Regions from separate parts of the Homo sapiens genome. Here all the other regions are linked to region 2. The links come from fine-mapping of genetic effects on gene expression. A gene starts in region 2. Each other region holds a variant in brackets. All regions are shown on one strand. Distances are from middle to middle. Region 1 overlaps PNPLA6 (patatin like domain 6, lysophospholipase). Region 2 holds the start of MCEMP1 (mast cell expressed membrane protein 1). Region 3 has its middle 12 kb from the start of RETN.

Evidence for each region. PIP is the estimated chance that this variant, and not a neighbour inherited with it, causes the effect.
Region 1: its variant is fine-mapped to the expression of MCEMP1 in whole blood (INTERVAL, PIP above 0.99).
Region 3: its variant is fine-mapped to the expression of MCEMP1 in whole blood (TOPMed, PIP above 0.99).

What each region holds. Positions count from the first base shown.
Region 1 is chr19:7,560,796-7,568,971 of GRCh38, reverse strand. PNPLA6 (patatin like domain 6, lysophospholipase) reads right to left here. Exons shown (of 32, transcript NM_001166114.2): 30 at 7,862-7,958; 31 at 7,655-7,764; 32 at 7,208-7,484. The coding sequence ends at 7,410. Among named protein-coding and RNA genes, the nearest start is that of PNPLA6, 29 kb to the right of the region's middle. The variant CAAAAT/T (reference allele first, on the strand shown) is at 4,354.
Region 2 is chr19:7,672,659-7,680,830 of GRCh38, reverse strand. It overlaps MCEMP1 (mast cell expressed membrane protein 1), which reads right to left and starts at 3,741. Exons shown (of 7, transcript NM_174918.3): 1 at 3,656-3,741; 2 at 3,105-3,194; 3 at 2,590-2,727; 4 at 2,431-2,481; 5 at 2,227-2,340; 6 at 1,848-1,907; 7 at 1,002-1,733. The coding sequence starts at 3,710. The coding sequence ends at 1,717. RefSeq lists a silencer at 1-293 and an enhancer at 2,705-2,774.
Region 3 is chr19:7,652,600-7,660,775 of GRCh38, reverse strand. No RefSeq gene overlaps it. Among named protein-coding and RNA genes, the nearest start is that of RETN, 12 kb to the left of the region's middle. RefSeq lists an enhancer at 2,505-2,624. The variant C/T (reference allele first, on the strand shown) is at 4,980.

The DNA of each region.
Region 1 (8,176 bases), 110 kb after region 2:
TCCTGGGTTCAAGTGATTCTCCTGCCTCAGCCTCCCGAGTAGCTGGGATTACAGGCGACCACCACCACGCCCGGCTAAATTTTTTGTATTTTTAGTAGATACGGGGTTTCATCTTCTTGTCCAGGCTGGTCTCGAACTCCTGACCTCAAGTGATCCACCTGCCTCAGCCTCCCAAAGTGCTGGGATTACAGGCATGAGCCACTGCACCTGGCTGAAGCACACAGGTAATGATTTTATAATGAGAACAGTACTCCCTCCCCTCCCCTCCTTTCCAATAAATGTTAATTCTAAACGACAAAAAAAAAAAAAAAAAAAGCAGTAAGTCAGCCCACAGCTACTCGGTGCTTAACCCTCCCCTAGTCAGCAAAGCTCCACCCCGGAGCCAGACGCCTGAACGCCATAGCAGGACCGCCCCCTGGTGGCAGAAAAGTAAGAATCTGGTCCAGGTAGGTGTGTGCGTCAGTTTCCTCCTGCAAGGAGCTCTGTTTTGTTTTATCTTAGTTTTATTTTATTATTAATTTTTTTGAGACGGTGTCCTGCTCTGTCGCCCAGGCTGGAGCGCAGTGGCACGATCTTAGCTCACTGCAACCTCTGCCTCCTGGGTTCGAGCGATTCTCCTGCCTCAGCCTCCTGAGTAGCTGGGATTACAGGCGTGCGTCTCCACGCCCAGCTAATTTTTGTATTTTTAGTAAAGACGGGGTTTCACCATGTTGGCCAGGCTGGTCTCGAACTCCTGACCTCAGGTGATCCCACCCGTCTTGGCCTCTCGAAGTGCTGGGATTACAGGCGTGAGCCACCGTGCCTGGCCTATTTTATTTTATTAATGTATTATTCTTTATTAGAGACGGGGGGGGGGGTCTCACTATGTTACCCAGGCTGGTTTCGAACTCCTGACGTCAAGCGATCCTCCCACTTTGGCCCCCCAAAGTGCTGGGATTACAGGTGTGAGCCACCACGCCCAGCCTGTTTCCTTTTATTTAGATCACAGGTCGGGCATGGTGGCTCACGCCTGTAATCCCAGCAGTTTGGGAGGCCAAAGTGGGAAGATCGTCTGAGGTCGGGAGTTCAAGACCAGCCTCACCAACATGTAGAAACCCTGTCTCTACTAAAAATACAAAATTAGCCAAGTGTGGCGGCACATGCCTGCAATCCCTGCTACTCGGGAGGCTGAGGCAGGAGAATCGCTTTAACTCCAGAGGCAGAGGTTGCGGTGAGCTGAGACGGAGGTTGTGGTGAGCCAAGATCATGCCATTGCACTCAAGCCTGGGCAACAAGAACAAAACTCCATCTCAAAAAAATAAAAATAAAGATAAATTACAAAGCAACCCACTGGGACTAAAATTAGGTAGAATACACAGGTGACAAATTTGAGAATGGGGGAAGGGAAGCCCAAGGTCAGCTGGCTAGCAATGGGCAGAACCTGCCAATCTGTGCAAATGTAGGACCCTGATTTTTTTTTTCCTTTCTGGCAATAAAGAAGGAAAGGAAAATTCCCTGTTTTTTGCTTTTTTTGTTATTATTTTTGTTTCAGAGATAGGGTCTTGCTCTGTCACCCAGGCTGGAGTGTAGTGGTGTGATAATAGATCACTGCAGCCTCAAACTCCTGGGCTCAAGCAATCCTCCTGCCTTAGCCTCCCAAAGTGCTGGGATTACAGGTGTGAGCCGCCATGCCCAGCCTCTTATTTTTTTTAATTTGTTTATTTATTTTTTGAGATAGAGGCTTATTCTGTCACCCAGGCTGGAGCGTAGTGGCATGATCTCGGCTCATTGTAATCTCTGCCTCCCAGGTTCAAGCAATTCTCGTGCCTCAGCCTCGCAAGAAGCTGGGATTACAGGCACGCACCACCACATCCAGCTATTTTGTATTTTTAGTAGAGAAGGGGTTTCACCATGTTGGCCAGGCTGGTCTCCAACTCCTGGCATCAAGTGACCTACCTGCCTTGGCCTCCCAAAGTACTGAGATTACAGGCATGAGCCACTGTGCCTGGCCTAAACTTATTATTAATATTATTTTTATAAAAGGTTTTACTCTGTTGCCCAGGCTGGAGTGCAGTGGTGCAATTATAGCTCACTGCAGCCTCTAACTCCTGGGCTCAAGCGATCTTCTAACTTCAGCTTCCCAAGTAGCTGGGACTACAGAAGCCCACCCTCACACTCAGCTACTTTTAATATTTTTCATAGAGTCAGAGTCTCACTATGTCACCCAGGCTGGTCTTGAACCCCTGGCCTCAAGCGATCCTCCTGCTTTGGCCTCCCAAAGTGTTGGGATTACAAGTATGAGCCACTGCACTTGGCCTGGGTGGCCAAAAGATGTCCTACAGCCTGACCAGGTTGGTTCTTCCCTGTCCAACCTCTACATGGCCATTTCCAGACACTGGGCAACAAACACACCAAGAGGCTGGGTGCGGTGGCTCATGCCTGTAATCCCAGCATTTTGGGAGGCCAAGGCAGGCAGATTTCTTGAGGTCAGGAGTTCAAGATCAGCTTGGCCAACATGGCAAAACCCCATCTCTACTAAGAATTAAAAAGAAAATTAGCTGGGCATGGTGGCATGCACCTATAATCTCAGCTATTCAGGAAGCTGAGGTGGGAGAATCACTTGAGCCCAGGAGGTGGAGGTTGCGCTAAGGCGAGATCACACAACTGCACTCCAGCCTGGGTGACAGATAGAGACTCTGTCAAAGAAAGAAAGAAAAAGAGGAGAGGGAGAGGGAGAGGGGGAGAGAGAGACAGAGAGACAGACAGAGAGAGACAGAGAGAGACAGAGAGAGAGAGACCAAGAAAACACTCTTGAGAATGTGACTTTATCAGTCTCTTGGGTCCACACCTCGTGGCCAGCTCCTGTGGATTGCAGGACAGGGCCCCTGACCCTGAACCCAGGTCCTCACTGTAACCTCAAAATTTCTTGGCGCTAGCTGAGTCTCAAGCTCTGGAACCAGAGAGGGGTAGCCTAGAGAGTCCAGGAAGGTCCAGTTGAGGCTCAGTTCCAACTCTGTTAGTCAATAGTTTGTTTTTTGTTTGTTTTTATTTTAATTTTTTGAGACAGGGTCTCGCCCTATTGCCCAGGCTGGAGTGCAGTGGCATGATCATGGCTCACTGCAGCCTAGACCTCCCTTGGCTCAAGTGATCCTCCTACCTCAGCCTCCCTAGGATCTGGGATTTCGGGCTCACACCACCATGCCTGGCTAATTTTTTGTATTTCTGATAGAGATGGGGTTTTGCCATGTTGCCCAGGCTGATGTCGAACTACTGAGCTCAAGCAATCCACTCGCCTCGGCCTCTCAAAGTGCTTGGATTACAGGCGTGAGCTACTGCAGCCCAGCCTGTTGATCATTAGTGATGATCACCAAATATTTCCAATGCTCTCTCTTCTGGGCACATGGTAGGGCTGTTTTTTCCTGGCCACTTACAGTTGGGTAGGACCATGTGACTTTTTCTAGCCAATGAGCAGTGAGATAAAAGTATTGCATCATTTCTGGACCAGAGTATTTAATGATGGGTATGAGGCCTTCCAGAGATGTCTTTCCTCAGTCACAGTGACCCAAAACATTCCAGATAGTGACTACTTTTGTTTTAGAGACAGTCTCACTCTGTCGCCCAGGCTGGAGTGCAGTGGTGAAATCATAGCTCACTGCAGCCTCGAATTCTTGGGCTCAAGCGATTCTCCTGCTTCGACCTCGCAAATAGCCGAGACTACAGGTGCATGCCACTATGCTCAGCTGATTTTAAAAAGTTTTTTAGAGATGAGGTCTTGCTATGTTTCCCAGGCTGGTCTCAAACTCCTGGGCTCAAGCAATCCTCCTGCCTCAGCCTCCCAAGTAGCTGGGACTATAGGCATGAGCCACTGCACCCAGCTCAGAAATTACTTTTGTATTGTTTTTGCCCCCCAAGACTTTGGTGTTATTTGTTACAGCGGCATAACCTGACTTGTCCTGCCTGATCCATTACACCATCCACATCATGGCAGCTGAGTCTAGCCAAGGGCTTCTATGTTAATTTGCTAGGATTCACTGTCACAAAGTTCCACAGATGGGGTGACTTCAGCAACAAAAACGTATTGTCGGCTGGGTGAGGTGGCTCACGCCTGTAATCCCAGCACTCTGGGAGGCTGAGGCAGTTGGATTGCTTGAGCCCAGGTTCAAGACCAGCCTGGGCAATATGGCAAAACCTTGTCTCCATCAAAAATACAAAAATTAAGCCAGGTGTGGTGGCATGTGCCTGTGGTCCCAACTACCAGGGAGGATGAGGTGGGAGGATGGTTTAAGCCTGGGCGTGGTTGCAGTGAGCTGAGATGGCGCCACTGCACTCCAGGGTGGGCAACAGAGCCAGACCCTATCTCAAAATAAAACAAAA[CAAAAT/T]CAGAGAGAAAGAGAGAGAGTGGGAGTTATCTCAGGGATCTTTGCTTCGTCTTTGGAGCTTGATGTCATTCGACATTTACTGAGCACCTACCATGAGCCAGGTGCTGTTCTATGCAAGGTTCTTCCAGTGATGGAACTTATATTTAAGTGTGTCTTGCAGAGACAGATGAGAAACAAGTAAGCAAGTGAGGCCTGATGTGATGGCTCGTGCCTGTAATCCCAGCACTTTGGATGGCCAAGGCAGAAGGATCAATTGAACCCTGGAATTTGAGAACAGCCTGGACAACCTAGCGAGACCCTTGTCTCTACCAAAATTTTTTTTTAAAAATTATCCAGGTGTGGTGGTGCTTGCCTGTAGTCCCAGCTACTTGGCAGGCTGAGGTGGGAGCATCACTTGAGCCTGGGAGGTTGAAGCTGCAGTGAGCTATGACTTCACTACTGCACTCCAGCCTAGGCAACAGAGTGAGATCCTGTCTCTAAAAAAAAAAAAGTTAATTAAAAACTTTAGGCCGGGTGTGGTGGCTCACACCTGTAATCCCAGCACTTTGGGAGGCTGAGGCAGGCAGATTACCTGAGGTCAGGAGTTAGAGACCAGCCTGGCCAACATGGTGAAACCCCGTCTCTATTAAAAATACAAAAATTAGCCAGGTGTGGTGGCGGTTGCCTGTAATCTCAGCTACTTGGGAGGCTGAGGCAGGAGAATAGCTTGAACCCGGGAGGCAGAGGTTGCAGTGAGCCGAGATGACACCACTGCACTCCAGCCTGGGCAACAGAGTGAAACTCTGTCTCAAAAACAAACAAACAAACAAACAAAACAACAACACCAACAACACTTTATACCTGTAATCCCATCACTTTGGGAGGCCAAGACAGGTAGATCGCTTGAGCCCAGAAGTTTGAGACCAGCCTGGACAATATGGTGAGACCCCCATATCTACAAAAAAAAAAAAAAAAAAACTAGCTGCATGTGGTGACTCGCGCCTGTAGTCCCAGTTACTCGGGAGGTTGAGGTGGGAGGATCACTTGAGCTCAGGAGGTCAAAGCTGCAGTAAGCCGTGATCACATCACCGCACTCCAGCCTGGGTGACAGAGTGGGATCTTGTCTCAAAATAATAATAATAATAATAATAATAATAATAATAATAATAATAATAATAATAGTAATAATAAACAATGAAAACAATAAAAACAAGTGAAGCAACTGTGACTAATGAAGTGCTTTAAAGGCAAGGAGACAGGGGCCAACGGGAACAGGGAAGTTACTGTACACAGTCCGAAGAGGTGACAATTGAGGACAGGCTTAATCAGCTACACAGGGAGTAAAAAGCCCAATTCTGTGCTTTGAGCCAGGAATCGATGGAGAATTTGAGGAATAGAATGAAGGCTGGTACAACTGGAGCCTTGTGAGCCAGGATGGAAGGGGAGCCAGTTAAGATACAGACACCAGTAGGTGCCAAACTATGGACTGAACTTTCCCCTAAATGTCCCCCTCCACCCTCAAAACTCAGAGATCTGGAGGGCGCAGGGATATCGGCGGGGGTGGGGGGGCTTGGAGGGAAAGACACAGAGGGGGCGTCAGTAGCACCTCGGACAGCACCATCCCTGTCCATGGTGCTGACAGCTCGAGGCACTGACAGTCGGTGGGAATTTAAAATGGTGCAGCCGCTATGGAAAAGTTTGGCGTTTCTTCAATTCAACACAGAATCTCCATGTAACCCAACAATTCCACTCCCGGGCATCTAGCCAAGGAAGTTGAAAGCAGGGATCCAGATAGTTGTACACCTGTGTTCACAGCAGCATGACTCCCCATAGCCAAAAGGTGGAAGCAACTCAAGCGTCCAACAGATGAACCAATAAATACCATGTGGTCCATCTACACAATGGGATATTATTCACTCATAAAAAAGATAAACCGTTCTGGCCGGTCAAGGAGGCTCATGCCTGTAATCCCAACACTTTGGGAGGCCAAGGCGGGCAGATCACTTCAGGTCAGGAGTTTGAGACCAGCCTGGGCAACGTGATGAAATGCCGTCTCTACTAAAAATACAAAAATTAAGGCCAGGTGTGGTGGCACATGCCTGTATTCCCAGCACTTTGGAAGGCTGAGGCAGGTGGATGGCTTGAGGCCAGGAGTTTGAGACCAGACTGGCCAACATGGTGAAACCCCTTCTCTACAAAAAATACAAAAATTAGCCAGGCATGGTGGTGCTCGCCTGTGGCCCCAGCTACTTGGAAGGCTGAGGCATGAGAATCACTTGAATCCAAGAGCTGGAGGCTGCAATAAGCTGAGATCGCATCACTGCACTCCAGCCTAGGTGACAGAGAGAGACACTGTCTCAAAAATTAAAACAAAAAACAAAACAAAACCAAAAAACCCCCCCACAAAATTTAGCTGGGTGTGGTGGCGGGCGCCTGTAATCCCAGCTACTCAGGAGGCTGAGGCAGGAGAATCGCTTGAACCCGGGAGATGGAGGTCGCAGTGAGCAGAGATCATGCCACTGCACTCCAGCCTCCAGCCTGGGTGACAGAGTGAGACTCCATCTCAAAAAAAAAAACACAAAAAACAAAAAACACACAGAAAGAAATTGAGGGGTGCCATATCGGGCCCCCAAGAGCACCTGTGAGCCCGGGAGGGTGGCACGGAATGTCTGGCCCTGTGGTCCGGAGTCAGCACTGGCTTCTGAGGAGCCAGAGAAGGGGCAGAGTGGGGACAAGCACCTAGTGGGGCTCCGTGTGGATTCTAGAAAGGCATTCCCTGTGGGGGGCAAGCACCAGGTGGTGTCAGACCCCAGCCCCAGCCATCCTGAGCACAGAAGGTGGGTCCCCAGTCCGAAAACGACAGGAAGCCATTTCCAAGAGGCGAGTTTATTGGGGGAGGGGCTGGTCAAGTCATCAGTGCAACACTGCATCCCCGCTCAGGGCAGGTCAGTCCAGTGTGTGGGCCGCGGGGGTCACAGGCATAGCAGCAGGAGGGGGAGTGAGCTACCCCCACGGGGCCACCCCCAGCCCAGTCCAGGGGTGGGAGGGAGGGGGTGACCCCTGTCGAGGTCCTCAGGCATCTGTGGCTGAGCCGGGCGGCTCCTGGGGCAGACAGCGTCGTTGCCGGAGAATCGACTTCTCCTCCTCCTGCGAGGGAAGGTCACACACACGTCACCCAGCACGGGACACTGATGCGTCACATGTCAGCCAGCACCCAGCACACACAGGATCTCAAATACGCCCCCGGCTCCCCTGCCTGACACTGTACTCATGACCCTCTGGGGGATGTGAGGGGACCCTGGGCCACCCACTCTCACCATCTCGGAGGCAGTGCTGGGGCTTGCGCCCTCGGGGGACCCCCCTTCATCCCTCGAGCAGTCGGGTCCGGCGTCCTCCTCATACTCTGTCAGACAATCTGACTCCTCTCCTGGAATCGGGGAGCAGGGCACAGGTGAGGGGATTGGGGCTGGCCTGCCATCTCCAGCCACTCCCCTCCCTCTTGGGGGGTCCCCTGGGCCCCTCACCGTCAGCACAGCCATCAGAGACATAGCTCGTGGGGGGCTCAATCCGGGACACAATCTCTGCCAAGTCAGTGAAGCCAGAGCTTGGGAAGGCAAGCACCTGTGGGGTGACACTGGTGAGGCTCTTAGGGGGGGCCCACAGAGTCTTGGGGCCCCTGGGGGGCCCAGTGGTGCATTGGGGGCTCAGAGGAGATCCTAGGGTGGGAACTCTCTGAAGTCAGCAGAGGTCTGAGAGCTCAGCAAAACCCAGGGACATGTGGGGTCATCTGAGGTTTCGGGGAGACTTTAAGGGGGCTTGGGTTCTGTAATCAGTGGAGT
Region 2 (8,172 bases):
AAGGCGCTGCGTGCGCAGGCGCTCGACGGGCCAGGCGTGTGGGCGGGGCGCGCGCAGCGGTGCCTGAGAGCGGCCGCAGGGGGGCGCGCGAGTCCGCGGAGCCGGACCCAGGGACGTGGCCCACGGCCGTGATGGCTGCTCCGCGCGTGGCCAGGGTCTCGCTGGCTCTGGGTGGCCCACGCTGGAGGGGACGCTTGCAGGCCTAGTCACCTGCTCAGGGCGCACGTATGACAATGGGCCAATGTATACCCTTGCACATGGACACACCTGTTGGCTTTTCCAGGCACTCCTATGTCCTTGGGGATGGGTTCAATTGTCTCAAGTGCATCCATGTGGCCCGCGGTGGCTCCCGCCTGTAACCCCAGCATTTTCGGAGGCGGAGGTGGGAGAATCACTTGAGGCCAGGAGTTTGAGACCAGCCTGGACAACATAGCTAGACTCCCACTTCTTTAAAAAAAATTAGCCAGGTGTGGTGGTGTGAACCTGTAATCCCATCTACTCGGGAGGCGGAGGCAAGAGGATCGCCTGAGCCCAGGAGGTCGAGGCTGCAATGAGTCATGATCGTACCACTGCCCTCCAGCCTGGGTGATAGAGCGAGACCCTGTCTCAAAAAAACAAAAACAAACAACAACAACAACAAATCAAGTGCATGCATGAGCGGTGGACATAGTACCTTAGGGTCATGTACACTCATGGATACATGCTCAATGGCATAGATACACTCACGGGCACAATTACACACGTGGGTACACGCTTAGGGCTTGTATATATCCGTGGTCCCAGGTACACTCAGGGAGATGTTGTATGCTCAGGGGCACCCACTCTGGGACACAGGGAAGACACAGGGAATGAGTTACTCATTCACAGATGCACAGGTACTCACGCAGGGCACTCAGTCTCGCCCACCCTGGTGCCCCGGGGTCATTGTCACGTGCAGACTCTCCCTCTCCCCAGGTCCCAAAACCCCTCCCCTTGCCCCAGTAACAGGTCCCATAGCGACGCTGTTTTCCCTTGACTTTATTTATCTTCATAAGTCACAAAATGTGAGTGCAGAGATAAATGTCTGTGTGCATGTGCCCTGAGCACACAGGGTGGCATAACTCGGCACACTCATAATGACACAGCCGTTCACCCAGCCACAGATAGTGACAGGGCACACATGGCGACACCCACATGTACGGAGATAAATCTCCCCCACCATGACATGGGTAGACAGAAAACACGCCGCAGTATACTCTAGTATGTTTACACAAACAGGGAGACAGGCCCGTGCAATGCATGTCACCAACACCCACACTCAGAGTGACATCTGCTGGAGGTGCTCAGACACAGCCACCCACCGTGACATGCCGAGACTCACATATGTCACATGACACAGGCATGCATGCCACATTCACTGTGACTCTCAGTCCTATTCATTCATCACCTTTCTGGGAGATACACTGAAATGTCCACCCTTTGCAAAATGCACACACACGCGCACGCACACACGCACATACACGAACACACGCGCACACACGCACACACACGCACGCAGGTGTACACACACACGAGCAACTCCGAGACACTCATTCACCATGACTCGAGGTTTTTCTATACGTGGGACGAGGGGCAGGTTCACACTAGGCTGGGGGGGGGGGGTCATTTCCCGTCTTCGTTGGCAGGTGCAGCCCCATCTTCCAAGTTGTGGCTTTGGCTGCCACAATGTCCTCTCATTTATTGAGGTGAGGACTCTGGGGATGGGGAGAGACCCACAGTGAGGCAGATCCCGCCCCTGGGAGAGGAGCTGGGGCTAAATCTGAAGCCCCACCCACCCTCCTCCACCTCCTGTCGGGGCGCCAACTTACGTGGCATTTTCTGCAGCACCTCCAAGATTTTCTGTACCTTTGTGTCAATGTTTTTTATGCCTAGGGGGCGGGGAGGGTTGGGTGGGAACAGATAAGTCAAGCTGCGGTGGAGCCTCAAACAAAGCCCCCACCTTCCTTGGAAGCACCCCCCCTGCCCCACACCCACCCTGGGGTACAGCAGAGCCCATGGATTTGGGGTTCCCAGGAGCCTTTCAATACCCACAGAGCAACCCAGATGGTAACACCCATCGCCCCTCCACAACTTGAGCTTTGGGAGGGTAGGACCCCGGCTTTCTCCTCCCCTGAATCCCCTGCCCCCAGCTCAGCTCCGGGCATTGGTGACAAATAACCCCCATAGAAGGCGAGACTACACAGGCACCTGCTAATGTCGTCTCTAATCTATCAATCTTGCTCCTGACCATGGTGATGCTCTGCTGAACGGAATCCCAGCCTCTCTTCTGTCTCTCTTCGCATGCTTGTACGGAGTTTGAGACTGAGGGCATGAAACAGGGGTGTCTGTGCATCCATCCCTCTCCAGACCCCCACCATGACCCCACGGGTCTCCCTCAGACCCTCCGCTCACCATTCCAAAGCTCCCTTTTAAAGCCCAGCAGCTCCTTGGACATCTCAGCATCTGTTCAGGAGGGGCAGGAAAATCCTTGAAGCACCCAGGGAGAGAGAGAGAGAAGGACAAGGGAGAAAGTCTAGGCCCCCCAGCACCCTCCTCCCAAGAAGTACTCACTCTTCACCATGATGAAGGCTGACAGGATGATGCAGAGGACAAAGGCCAGGGCCAGGAGGATGTACAGGCTCAGGATGGCTCTGTACAACCAGCAGGGGACCTGGGTGGAGTCTGAGGGCGGCCTGCACTGGGCTGGGACTGGAGCAAAGAGGCAGCAAAGTGACCTTGAGGGGCCAGCACCACCACTCAAACCATCCTCACTGTCTCTAACACCATGGACACCTCGCTCCTCTCAAAACCATCAGCAGCTGTGGTCATGCAGCTTGTCATCATCGTCAACAACACTGCCACCACCAGCCACCCTCAGCGATCTAACACCGTCACCATCACAGACCCCCTCTCCAGCATTCCCCAACATTGTCATCATCAACAGACCTCATTAGCACGTCAACAGCTGTCACCTCTTCCTTCCCCATCGCTTCCTCCCTTCCACGCAGCCCCGGGGGCCCTGCAGTTGCCCGCCCACCTGCCCCTTCCCAAGGTGATGGGATGTGAGCAGGTGGGTGTCTGCTCACCTTGGCTCGTGGGTCGTGAATGACCACCCTTTGCATGGTCCTGATTTTTGAAGGCCAAGGTGATATTCTCATAGTCTGGGTCATGGGCACCTGGGAGGGGTTGGAGATCTGCTCAGAGCTCTGTGGTGTGGAGAGTGGATCCGGGATCTTGTTTTACCCAACCCTTTGCACTCAATAAATTGTAGGGGGTGAAAGATAAGGAGTGAGAAGCTAAAATCTGCTTTTTGGTTAAGTGGAGCGGGTGTGTGAGAGTTTGAGTGATCACACCACACACACATCCACACACACATCCACACATCTTGGAGGGGAAGGAGCCCCCGGCCCCCACCTTTGACCCCTTACCTCTCCCATCTGAACTCTCCTTCTTTTTTTATTTTTATTTTTTACAGACAGAGTCTCCCTATGTTGCCCAGGCCAGTCTCCACCTCCAGGGCTCACGCAATCCTCCCGCCTCAGCCTCCCAAAGTGCTAGGATTACAGACATGAGCAAAAGCCCCCGGCCCCCCAATCTCTCCTTCTTAACCCCTCCCTTCCACCTCGAGTTCCCTAACCTTGATTCTTGGCTGAGACCCCCTGTTTCTTGTCCCTGAAGGCTGGTGCTTGCATCTTGACTTCCTGGTGCTTGTAGATTTCCTCCACTTCCATGGTCCCCAGCCCGCAAATTTGTCCATACACGTCCCCGCCCACCGGAAGGTGTGGGCAGATGAGGAAATCTGGAGGTGGGGGGAAGAAAGAGGGGGAGCAGCCTCCTCTTTTCAGGGATCCACGACTCTCGCACCCTGGGGCACCCTCATTCCTGCCCCGATCAAGAGGCTCTTGGGAGCCAAGAGGTCTCAGGAAGGACCAAGAAGAAAAACCTCTAGACCGGGAGATGGAATTCGACACTCGGAAATGTTACAGGAAGCTGTGGTCTCTGTGTGTGTCTGTGTCTACCTGGATGGACCTCACCCTCCTACCTCCTCTCCATTTCAAAAGAGAAGCTGTGACACCTCAGTGTCCCAACTTTTCGCGTAAGAGCAACCAGGCTTGGAGACAGGACCCCTGGGTCCCCCCACACCTTCCTCCCTCCAGCCTCAGCTCCACCCCTCAGCTCCACCCCCAAGAAGTTCTTCTACTTCTACAAGTCCCCGTGGAGGAAAAGCACAGATGTGAGGCAACGGGAACTAACCACTGGAACGCCACACCCACATCTGGGACTGAGGACAGACCCACATCCTTCCCTCCCTCCCCAAATCCCCTGCTTTTATACAACCCTGGAGGAGGCTGGGTGCGGTGGCTCACGCCTGTAATCCCAGCACTCTGGGAGGCTGAGGTGGGTGGATCATCTGAGGTCAGGAGTTTGAAACCAGCCTGGCTAACATGGTGAAACCCCGTCTCTACTAAAAATACAAAAATTAGCTGGGCGTGGTGGCGAGCGCCTGTAATCCTAGCTACTCAGGAGGCTGAGGCAGGAGAATCGCTTAAACCTGGGAGGCGGAGGCTGCAGTGAGCGGAGATCACACCATTGCACTCCAGAATGGGTGACAAGAGGGAAACTCTGTCTCAAAAAAGAACCCTGGAGGAACAGTTTCCTCTGCACCTGGAAACTCCAGGTTTCTCATTCTCATCCATCCATCTGCTTATCTACCCAGATACTCTCTCTCACACATGTACACACACAGGTCTGCACACGGACACACATCACAAACTCATTTGCATACTATTTGCATTGTGACACTCAGAAAAATAGACACAAGCATGCGTTCACATGCCCGCACTCTGTCTAGAAGGTGTCTTAGTTCACTTTGTGTTTATCTGATCTTGAAAACTGGGGTTACAAAAGGCACAAAGTAGCTGGGTATGGTGGCTCGCTCTGTAGTCCCAGCTACCCAGGAGGCTGAGGTAGGAGGATCATTTGAGGCCAGGAGTTTGAGACCAGCGTGAGCAACATAGCAAGACCCTGTCTCTTTAAATGTTTTTTAATAATTTTTTTTTGAGACAGGGTTTCACTCTGTTGCCCAGGCCGGGGTGCAGCAGCGTGATCATGGCTCACTGCAGCTTTGACCTCCCTGGCTCAAGTAATCCTTCGTCCTCGGCTTCCCGAGTAGCTGAAATTACAGGTGGGCACGACTTCACCTGGCTAATTTTTCTCCTTTTTTGAGATGGAGTTTTGTGCTTGTCACCCAGGCTGGAGTGCAATGACGCTATCTCAGCTCACTGCAACCTCCGCATCCCAGGTTCAAGTCATTCTCCTGCCTCAGCCTCCCAAGTAGCTGGGATTACAGGCATGCACCACCACCCCCGGCTAATTTTGTATTTTTAGTAGAGACGGGGTTTCCCCATGTTGGTCAGGCTGGTCTCGAACTCCTGACTTCACGTGATCTACCCGCCTTGGCCTCCCAAAGTGCTGGGATTACAAGCATCAGCCACCGTGGCCCAGTCTAATTTTTCTTATTTTTTGTAGAGATGAGGGTCTCAATATGCCGTCCAGGCTGGTCTTGATCTCCTGGGTTCAACTGATCCTCCAGCCTTGGTCTCCCAAAGTGCTGGGATTACAGGCATACATTTTTATTTTTATTTTTTTCTGGCCAGGTGTGGTGGCTCACGCCTGTAATCACAGCACTTTGGGAGTCTGAGGCGGGCGGATCACCTGAGGTCAGGAGTTAGAGACACCAGCCTGACCAATATGATAAAACCCTGTCTCTACTAAAAATGCAAAAATTAACTGGGCGTGGTGGCAGGCGCCTGTAATCTCAGCCACTCGGGAGGCTGAGACAGGAGAATCACTTGAACCCGGGAGGTGGAGGTTGCAGTGAGCCGAGATCGCGCCATTGCACTCCAGCCTGGGCAACAAGAGCAAAACTCCGTCAAAAAAAAAAAAAAAAAAAGAAAAAAGAAGAAAGAAGAAAGAAGGAAGGAAGGAAGAAGAAAAGAAGAAAAAACAAGTATAAGACTGTCTTATGTGCAGAAAGTGATGATGTTTTGGTTAAAAATATGTGGTTAAATTTCAGACAACTTGAATGTTGAGAAATGAGCGTCGAGATCTGGTGAGGATAAAGTTCTGTTTCCTAAAATATTGCCAAATCCTGTGTCTCCAAGAAAGATCAATTTGATAATGACTTCATGCCAGCTGCTCCATTTGGTCTTAGAAAGAAGTCAGTTACTGAGCTATAGGACCGCCTTCTAATGGAGCAGACGGACCAATTGGATGTGGGCTCTGCCTTGATGGACAGGCACAGGGGGTGGAGCCACAGCGTTGCACATTTCCCGGGCTTGGGTGGGGCTGAGACGCGGCTCCAGGCTCTGGACTTCCTTTGAGAAAAAGGTCACGCTAAACCAGAGGCCCACAAGCAATCATGTCATGTGGGAAACATCTGCAAAGCTGCCTGACCAGCACCCGTCCCTTTCATAGGGTAACATTCTCAATTTTCTTTTAAGAAAGAAAATGTGTGCTAGATCCAGCAAACCATAAGCTAGGGATTGGTTTACAGTGGACAAATGATCCAGACCCAGCCAACCAGAGTCTAAGATTGGGCAGAGAGGCGGGCATTTGAGCAAGATCCAGCCAATGAAACGCTGGTCTGGGATTTTTATTGGTTTAACCACGGGGGAAAAAGCATTCTCTTTTTTTTCCAGCCCTCACTAGGGCTGCCACAATGGGAGGATGTAATGGGAGCTGTGACAGGGAAGAATTTACTTGAGAGCAAAGGCAGTGCTGAGAAAATCAGACCCGAGAGGAAGTCTGGGTCCTGGAGACATCATTTGAGACCCTGGTTCCAAGCCATACCTGAACCTGTTGTTCTAACCCTGGGCTTGTCAGTTACACAAACAAGAAACTTCCTTTTAGTTTTGCCCAAGCTAGTTTGAAGTGGGGTCTGTTGTACTTGCAAGCAGAAGAATCTTGCCTTGGCTGGTCTCTGTGGCCCACGCCTGTAATCCCAGCACTTTGGAAGGCCGAGGCAGGTGAATCACTTAAGGTCAGGAATTTGAGACCAGCCTGGCCAAAATGGCGAAATCCCCGTGTCTACTAAAAATACAAAAATTAGCCAGGAGTGGTGGTGGGCGCCTGCAATCCCAACTACTCAGGAGGCTGAAGCAGGAGAATCACTTGAACCTGGAGGTGGAGGTTGCAGTGAGCTGAGATCGTGCCACTGCACTCCAGCCTGGACAACAGAGTGAGACTCCATCTCAAAAAGGAAGAAGAAGAAGGAGGAGGAGGAGAAGGATGAGGAGGAGGAAGGAGGGAGGGAGGAGGGAGGAGGGAGGAGGATATCTTGCCTACCACAGGGGATCTAGGCATTAGCTATTGAGGAAATTGAGGCTCTAATAGGGGGTTTGCCTGTCCACATCACCTGGGCAGATATGACCTCCAAGTCTGCACTCTGGGGCAGGAGAATGTCTATGTTGGAATTGAGGAACCTGAAGAGAGCCCTCTTAGGTTTCAGATACAGGACTATTGGATGGGGGTGGAGACAAATAGTTCTGGGGACAATGGAGCATCCCCGCCCCCAACACACACACACAGCAGTAAGGGGCAGGGACACACACAAGGCACTAGACTCACCCTCTCTGGCCCTGGCCATGCTTCTAACTCAGTGGTCCTGCCCTACCCCCATGACCACTGTGGAGTCAGGAGAGAGGGTCTGGGAAGGGAATCCCTGGGCTGGAGTCTGGGTGGGGTCCCTGGCACCAGAAGTGGTTGTAATCTCTGCTCATGGCCACCAGCATCAGACAGGGGGCTGGGACCATCACAGGGGGTGGGTGGCAGTGGGAGGAGAGTCCAAAACATCCTGCAAACCAGAACCTCACTCTATCATCTGTTGTCCAGGTGTGACATTTGAGTCTGGGATCCCTTTCAAGACTAGGTGCTAGGAATTCTGAAGTCTGTGGTGGGAAATCAGGGACTGGATGGCAAGACTCCTGGGTCAGGCTTCCTGTAGAACTGGACCCCGAATCACCTGAATTTGTGCCCCAGGGAGCTGAGGCGGGGGATGCTGAGGCTTTTGCCCACTAGAACAGGGGTCCCCAGCCACCGGGCATTGGGAACGGGGCCTCACAGCAGGAGGTGAGTGGTGGGCGAGCGAGAGAA
Region 3 (8,176 bases), 20 kb after region 2:
AACAGTGATTTTTGAAAAATCCATTTTGTTGATGTGTAATTTACATACAGTAGAATGTGCCTATCTTATGTGTTTGGTTTCATGCATTGTTTTTCTTTTTCAACTTTTTAAATTTTTTTTTTTTTTTGAGACAGGGTCTCACTCTGTTGCCCAGGTTGGCGTGCAGTGGCACAATCTCGGCTCACTGCAACCTTCGCCTCTCGGGTTCAAGCAATTCTCCTGCCTCAGCCTCCTGAGTAGGTGGGACCACAGGCACGCGCCACTACACCCAGCTAATTTTTGTATTTTTAGTAGAGACAGGGTTTCTCCATGTTGGCCAGGTTGGTCTCGAACTCTTGACCTCAAGTGATCCACCCACTTCGGCCTCCCAAAGTGCTGGGACCACAGGCACACACCACCACGCCCAACTAATTTTTGTATTTTTCATAGAGATGGGGTTTCACCATGTTGCCCAGGCTGGTCTCAAACTCCTGGCCTCAAGTGATCTGCCTGCCTTGGCCTCCCAAAGTGCTGGAATTACAGGCATAAGCCACCATGGCCAGCCCTCTTTATCAACTTTTATTTATTTTTTCATTTTTTTGAGACGGAGTCTCGCTCTGTTGCCCAAACTGGAGTGCAGCGGTGCGACCTCAGCTCACTGCAACCTCCGCCTCCCGGGTTCAAGCGATTCTCCTGCATCAGCCTCCCAAGTAGCTGGGATTACAGGTGCCCGCCACCACGCCCATCTAATTTTTGTATTTTTAGTGGAGACGGGGTTTCACCATGTTGCCCAGGCTGGTCTCGAACTCCTGGCCTCAAAGCGACCTGCCCGCCTTGGCCTCCCAAAGTGCTGGGATTACAGTTGTGAGCCGCCGCGCCCGGGACCCTCTTTATCAACTTTTATTTTAGATTCAGGGGATACCTGTGCCAGTCTCCTACCTGAGTATATTGCATGATGCTGAGGTTTGGGGTATGAGCGACTCTGTCACCCAGATGGTGAGCACAGCACTCAACAGTTAGATTTTCAACCCTCATGCCCCTTTTCCTCACCCCTCCCTGGCAATCCCCACTGTTCATTATTGCCACCTTTATGTCCATGAGTACCTGAAGTTTAGATCCCACTTATAAGTGAGAACAGGCAGTCTTTGGTCTGCTGTTACTGAGTTTGATGCATTTTGACAAATGTGTCTACCTGCCTGCTGCACGTTTTGGTTTTCCCAAGAATTATTTTCTAAAAATCAGTTTTTATTAAGGTGGCATTTATATACACTAAAATTCTGCACACGATCTTGTAACCATCACCACCAAATACGTATTTATTTATTTATTATTATTTTTTAGAGATGGCGTCTCACTCTGTCTCGATCTCCCACGCCGGGGTGCAGTGGTGCCATCAGAGCTCACTGCATCCTCCAACTCCTGGGCTCAAGCGATCCTCCTGCCTCAGCCTCCTGAGTAGCTAGGACTACAGGCACCCACCACCACCCACAGTTAATTGAAAAAATTGATTCTTCTTTGTAGAGACAGGGTCTCATATGTTGCCAGGATCCTTGGTCTTTGACCTCCCAAAGTGCAGAGATTACAGGCATGCACCACTAATGCCGGGCCAAATACTTGTAATTTAAATTATCGCTGGGCTGGGCACGGTGGCTCACGCCTGTAACCCAGCACTTTGGGAGGCCGAGGGGGGAAGTTCACCTGAGGTCAGGAGTTCCAGACCAGCCTGGCCAACATGCTGAAACCCTGTCTCAACTAAAAATACAAAAATCAGCCGGACATTGTGGCAGACGCCTGTAATCCCAGCTAATCGGGAGGCTAAGACAGGAGAATCGCTTGAACCCGGGAGGCAGAGGTTGCAGTGAGCCGAGATCGCACCATTGTGCTCCAACCTGGGCAACAAGAGCGAAACTCCATCTCAAAAAATAATAATAAAATAAATTATAGTTGGAAAAAAGGGGTTTCCTAAAGACCCAAGGGAAATGGCCTCTTTGTTCCTGAAGCCACAGAGAGGATTTTTCTGCTCCCCACAACTAGTTTTCCTTGTGAAAATTCATAATTGCTACCAGCTTGTTCTCCTCTCTGTCACTATACATCTGTCCTTGAAGCCTTATTTGAACAAAGAGTTCTGGTATCACTCGGATGCCTAGAAACTGTTGCCGTTCTGTGAAACCGACCACCAGAGGAAACCCATGCTTCTCATTGGCTGCCTTACTAAGATGGTGACTTGTTGCCCTGGTGACAAGTTGCAATGACAGGTGGCTCTGCCAAATCAGAACACAGTGATACTTGCTTCCCCTCCCGGGTGAAGGATGGAAAATAAAAGTAAAAGCCTTGGCGGCTGTCAGGCTTCTTTACCAAAGAGCTGGAGAGCACTCCTTGGCCCCATTTATGCAAACACTTCCCATCTACAGATGATCCAGCTTCGGAGTGGGAGTCTAAGCAGCTGCCAGGACCACCGCTTGGCAGAGGACAGGCTGGGGGCTCTGGCATGACCTGCTGGGGCCAGGCTGTGACTTGGAGCAAGAGGTAGCAAGAACCTCGAGGCAGTGAACATCAAAAGAGAGATTTCCGGGGCTAAACACCCTAGGTTTTTCCTTCCTCCTGAACCCTAACCCTAACCCTCTCGGCTCACTGCAACCTCCACCTCCCGAGTGCAAGCAATTCTCATGCCTCAGCCTCCCGAGTAGCTGGGATCACAGGCGTGCGCCACCACGCCCGGCTAACTTTGTATTTTTATTAGAGACGGGGGTTTCTCCACGTTGGTCAGGCTGGTGTCAAACTCTCGAACTCAGGTGATCTGCCCGCCTTGGCCTCCAAAAGTGCTGGGATTACAGGCGTGCGCCACCGTGCCCAGCTTATTTTTGTATTTTTAGTAGAGGTGGGGTTTCACCCTGTTGGCCAGGCTGGTCTTGAACTCCTGAACTCAAGTGATCTGCCTGCCTCAGCCTGCCAAAATGCTGGGGTTACAGGCGCCAGGCCAAGTATCTTATTTTAAAAGGTTACAAAGAATATAGATGTGGATAAAATAAAAGTTTCTTTGCATTACCACTTTCCTGCAAGAAATGAGGGGGAGGGGCTTATGAAACAACTCACACCCCCCCAATTGAGGAACTGTAGATGAAAGGGAAGGTGCTGACAGGCCCGTCTGGCCACGGTTTCCTGGAATAAAACTGAGCCACACACCTCCACAAATCCCCAGCCTCCGGCAAGTACCCCAGAAGTACTCACACTCCACCACCTTCTGTGATCGCAACAGCCCTACGCAACATTACAGAGGGCAAAACCCACGCTGGGGAAGGCGGGGCTACTGTCAAAAGGTCACCAGGGCCAGGCACAGTGGCTCACGCCTATAATCCCAGCTCCTTGGGAGACCAAGGCAGGAGGATCCGTTGAGCTCAAGAGTTTGAGTTCAGCCTGGGCAACACAGGAAAACCCCCGTCTTTACAAAAACTTTTTAAAAATTAGCTGGGTGTGGTGGCATGCCCGTGTAATCCCAGCCACTACTTAGGAGGCCGAAGGGGGAGGATCTATTGCTTCAGCCCGGGAGTTTGTGGCTGCAGTGAGCTATGATTGCACCACTGCACTCCAGCCTAAGTGACAGACAGAGACTCTTAAAAAAAAAAAAAAAAGGGCAGGGCACGGTGGCTTATGTCTGTAATCCTAGCACTTTGGGAGGCCGAGGCGGGCAGATCATCTGGCGTCAGGAGTTCGAGGCCAACCTGGCCAATATGGTGAAACCCTGTCTCTACCAAAAGTACAAAACTTAGCTGGGTGTGATGGTGGGCACCTGTAATCCCAGCTACTCGGGAGGCTGAGGTGGGAGAATCGCTTGAATCTGGGAGGTGGAGTTTGCAGTGAGCCAAGATTGCGCCACTGCACTCCAGCCTGGGTGACAGAATGAGACTCTGTCTCAAAAAAAAAAAAAAAAAGTGGGGCACCTATATTCCCAGCACTTTGGGAAGCTGAGGCAGGAGGATGGCTTGAGGCCAAAAATTCAAAACCCGGCCTGGGCAACATAGCAAGACCCCATCTCTATGAAAAAAAAAAAAAAAAAGTCACCAGGCCAGCTAGCCTAGATTTCAGAGCCAGAATTTGTCTGATGCCATTGTCTTTACTTTTTCTTTTTCTTTTTTTTTTTTTTGAGACAGAGTCTCACTCTGTCACCCAAGCTGCAGGGCAGTGGGACAATCTCAGCTCACTGCAACCTCTGCCTCCCAGGCTCAAGCGATTCTCCTGCCTCAGCCTCCTGAGTAGCTGGGATTACAGACATCCACCACCATTTCCAGCTAATTTTTGTATTTTTAGTAGAGGTGAGGTTTCACCTTTTTGGTCAGGCTGGTCTCCAACTCCCAAGCTCAGGTGATCTGCCCACCTCAGCCTCCCAAAGTGCTGGGATTACAGTTGCGAGCCACCACGCCTGGACTGCTCTTCATTCTTTTTTCAGAACTTTCCCAGCTGCCAACAGAGACAGAAACTGAATCATCTCAGAAGTGAATGAAGGAGGCTGAGGGCGGGTGGACTGCTTGATTAGGAGTTCGAGATTTGCCTAGGCAACATGGAAAAAGCCTGTCTCTGCTAAAAATACAAAAATTAGCCGGGCGTGGTGGCACATGCCTGTAATGCCAGCTGCTTGGGAGGCTGAGGCAGGAGAATCACTTGAACCCGGGAGGCAGAGGCTGCAGCGAGCCGAGATCGCGCCACTGCACTCCAGCCTAGGTAACAGGGCGAGACTCCGCCTCAAAAAAAAAAGAAGGGAATGAAGGACACCCAAAATGGAGCCTCTGTCTGCCAGGGCTTTGCTATCCTGGCCTGCCTATCCCAGCCCTGGACACCTCATCTCTGATCCCACCAGAGCGGAACCTTCCCATTCGCAGGGCCATTTCCTTACCCAGAAACCTTTTCACAATGTTCTTGGCAGCAGCTGTTGGTCAACTGTGTTTTAAGGTTTTTGAGCAACTTTACAGAAAATAAAAGGGAAGCTACCCTCAATGTCTGGGTCT[C/T]CCCCTGGGTGGCCTCTCTTTGTCACCTTACTCATTTCCACGAGATTTCCTTGCTTCGTTGAGTTACATCACCTCCTTTTCCTGTCTGGGTCCAGGACGCCTCCTCTGCAGGTCTCCAGCACTGATTCCTTTGTCCCCGATTTCTCTGCTAGGGTCGCTGGCTTCACCATCCCACCACCACTGCTGCTGGCCCAGCCCGCAGCTTTAATTTCTCTGGACCCTCACGTTTTTGTTATTTGTGTTTTTTTTGGAGATGAGGTCTTGCTCTGTCACCCAGGCTGGAGTGCAGTGGTGCAATCACAGCTCACTGTAGCCTCCACCTCCCAGACTCAAGTGATCTTCCTGCCTCAGCCTCCCAAGTAGCTGGGTGTGTGCCACCAGGTGCAGCTACATTTTTTGTAGAGGCAGGGGTCTTGCTATATTGCCCAGGCTGGTCTCAAACTCCCAGCTTTAGATGATCCTTTCACCTCGGCCTCCCAGAGTGCTGGGATTACCAGCATGAGCCACTGCACCCGTCCTCTCATGTATTTTTTATTAATCGATTTATCTATTTACTTATTTTGAGACAGAGTCTTGCTGTACCACCCAGGCTGGAGTGCAGTGGCATGATCTCGGCCCACTGCAACCTCCACTCCCTGGGTTCAAGTGATTCTCCTGCCTCAGCCTCCCGAGTAGCTGGGATTACAGGTGCCCGCCACCATGCCTGGCTAATTTTTGTATTTTTAGTAGTGACGAGGTTTCACCGTGTTGGCCAGGCTGGTCTCGAATTCCTGACCTCAGGTGATCCACCCAACTCGGCCTCCCAAAGTGCTGGGATTACAGGCGTGAGCCACCGCACTCGGCCTCCCTCATGTATTTTTAAGCGGAACAGGTTCAAGATCACAAATGTTTTCCTCTCACTCTTTCAATGAGTTTCTATTCTAGAATCTCCTGCACGCCACAGGAAGGAGAACTCTCACCCTGTAATGCACATAAATACATGAGATCACCATTGTTCTCACCCAGTAATCAGAATCGTTAGTGATAATTAGTAATAAATTTATTTTTACTATATCTAATAAATTAGATAGTAATTACTATGGCAGCCAATCGTTCCTGGGTGCTCCCTAGATGCTTCCAAGGGAGCCACACGTGACCCTCAGGGCTGTGCCCATTCCAGGCTCTTCTGCTGAGCTCATGTAACCGCTTGCCTCAAGGCATTCCACAAATAATACATAAGTCAATGTATCACGTTGTCACTTTCTGTACAAACCAGCTAGTTCCGGAGGGAAGCAGAAAGCCTTTTTCAGAAGAACCACAGCTAATTCCAGTAGCAGGAATGATAAAGTTGGACATAATCCTCAAGAGAGTAATGAATCAAAAATGGATGGCGGGCCAGGCACGGTGGCTGATGCCTGTAATCCCAGCACTTTAGGAGGATGAGGCAGGTGAATCATTTGAGGTCAGGAGTTCAAGACCAGCTTGGCCACCATGGTGAGACCCCGTCTCTACTAAAAATACAAAAATTAGCCTGGCATGGTGGCTCATGCTTGTAGTCCCAGCTTCTTGGGAGGCTGAGGCAGGAGAATTGATTGAACCCTGGAGGTGGAGATTGCAGTGAGCCAAGATTGCATCACTGCACTCCAGCCTGGGCAACAAGAGCGAAACTCTATCTCAAAAACAAACAAACAAACAATAACAACAACAAAATTGATGGCTGCTAATGACTTTTTTTCTTTTCTTTCCTTTTTTATTTTTATTTTTTATGAGACAGGGTCTCACTCTATCGCCCAAACTGGAGTGCAGTGCCGAGATCATAACTCAGTGCAGCCTCAACCTCTTGGACTCAAGTGATCTTCCCACCTCAGCCTCCCATGTAGCTGGGACTACAAGCAATTGCTGCCACATCTGGCTAATTATTTTATTTTGTTGTATTTTATTTATTTATTTTTTGAGACAGAGTCTTACTCTGTCACCCAGGCTGGAGTGCAATGGCATGATCTCAGCTCACTGCAACCTCCGCCTCCTGGATTCAAGTTATTCTCCTACCTCAGCTTCCTGAGTAGCTGGGATAACAGGTGTGCACCACCACGCCTGGTTAATTTTTGGTTTTTTGGTAGAGACGGGGTTTCATCATGTTGGCCAGGCTGGTCTTGAACTCCTGACCTCAAGTGATCCGCCCATCTCAGCCTCCCAAAGTGCTGGGATTACAGGTATGAGCCACCGTGCCCGGTCTTTATTTTATTTTTAGTAGAGACAGGGTTTTGCTATGTTGCCCAGGCTGGTCTCAAACTCCTGGGCCTAAGTGATCCTCCTGCCTTGGCCTCCCAAAGTGCTGGGAACTACAGGCGTGAGCCACTGGGCCCAGCTCCTGTTAACATCTTTATGTGGAGAGTTACTGGGGACCAGGGACATTCCCCAAACCCACCCATCAATCGTAGTGACATGACGTTATGGACCCCCTGATGTGATGTACCAGGAAGTACCCGGCCCTACCAGCATGATATTATTCTGGCTGCAACTGACCCTTATTCCAATAGAGCATGTGGTTCTAAGCCATTTATAGGGTAAACATTGGGGCAGGGATGGGGAGAGAGGAAGCAACCTGCCAAATCCAGAATGAGGATCATTCCTCGGTACCAGAAGAGAACCAGAAAGAAAGCACCCTAAGTGGGGATACCACAAGGAAGTAAAGCAGGGGCCTCTCCCAGCTGGGGAAGGGAAGGAGGAAGGAGTACAATAGCTTGCAAGGCACAGCATTGCGGATGATGGGAATAGCAGGTGCAAAGGTTCTGGGGCAGGGACAGTGTGGTGTGTTTGAAGAACAGCAGCCAGGTTCACCATGAGATGGGAAATGGACTTGGGGGAAGGGATCTCAAAGGATAATTTTTTTTTTTTTTTTGAGACAGGGTTTCGCTCTTGTTGCCCAGGCTGGAGTGCAGTGGCATGATGGCTCACTGCAACCTCTGCCTTCCGGTTTCAAGCGATTCTCCTGCCTCAGCCTCCCGAGTAGCTGGGATTACAGGCGCCCACCACCACGCCCGGCTAATTTTTGTATTTTTAGTAGAGACAGGGTTTCACCATGTTGGCTAGACTGGTCTTGAACTCCTGACCTCGTGATCCGCCCGCCTCGGCCTCCCAAAGTGCTGGGATTACAGACGTGAGCCACCGCGCCCGGCCCCCCAACTTTTTTTTTGTTTTTAACACAACTTCTCGCT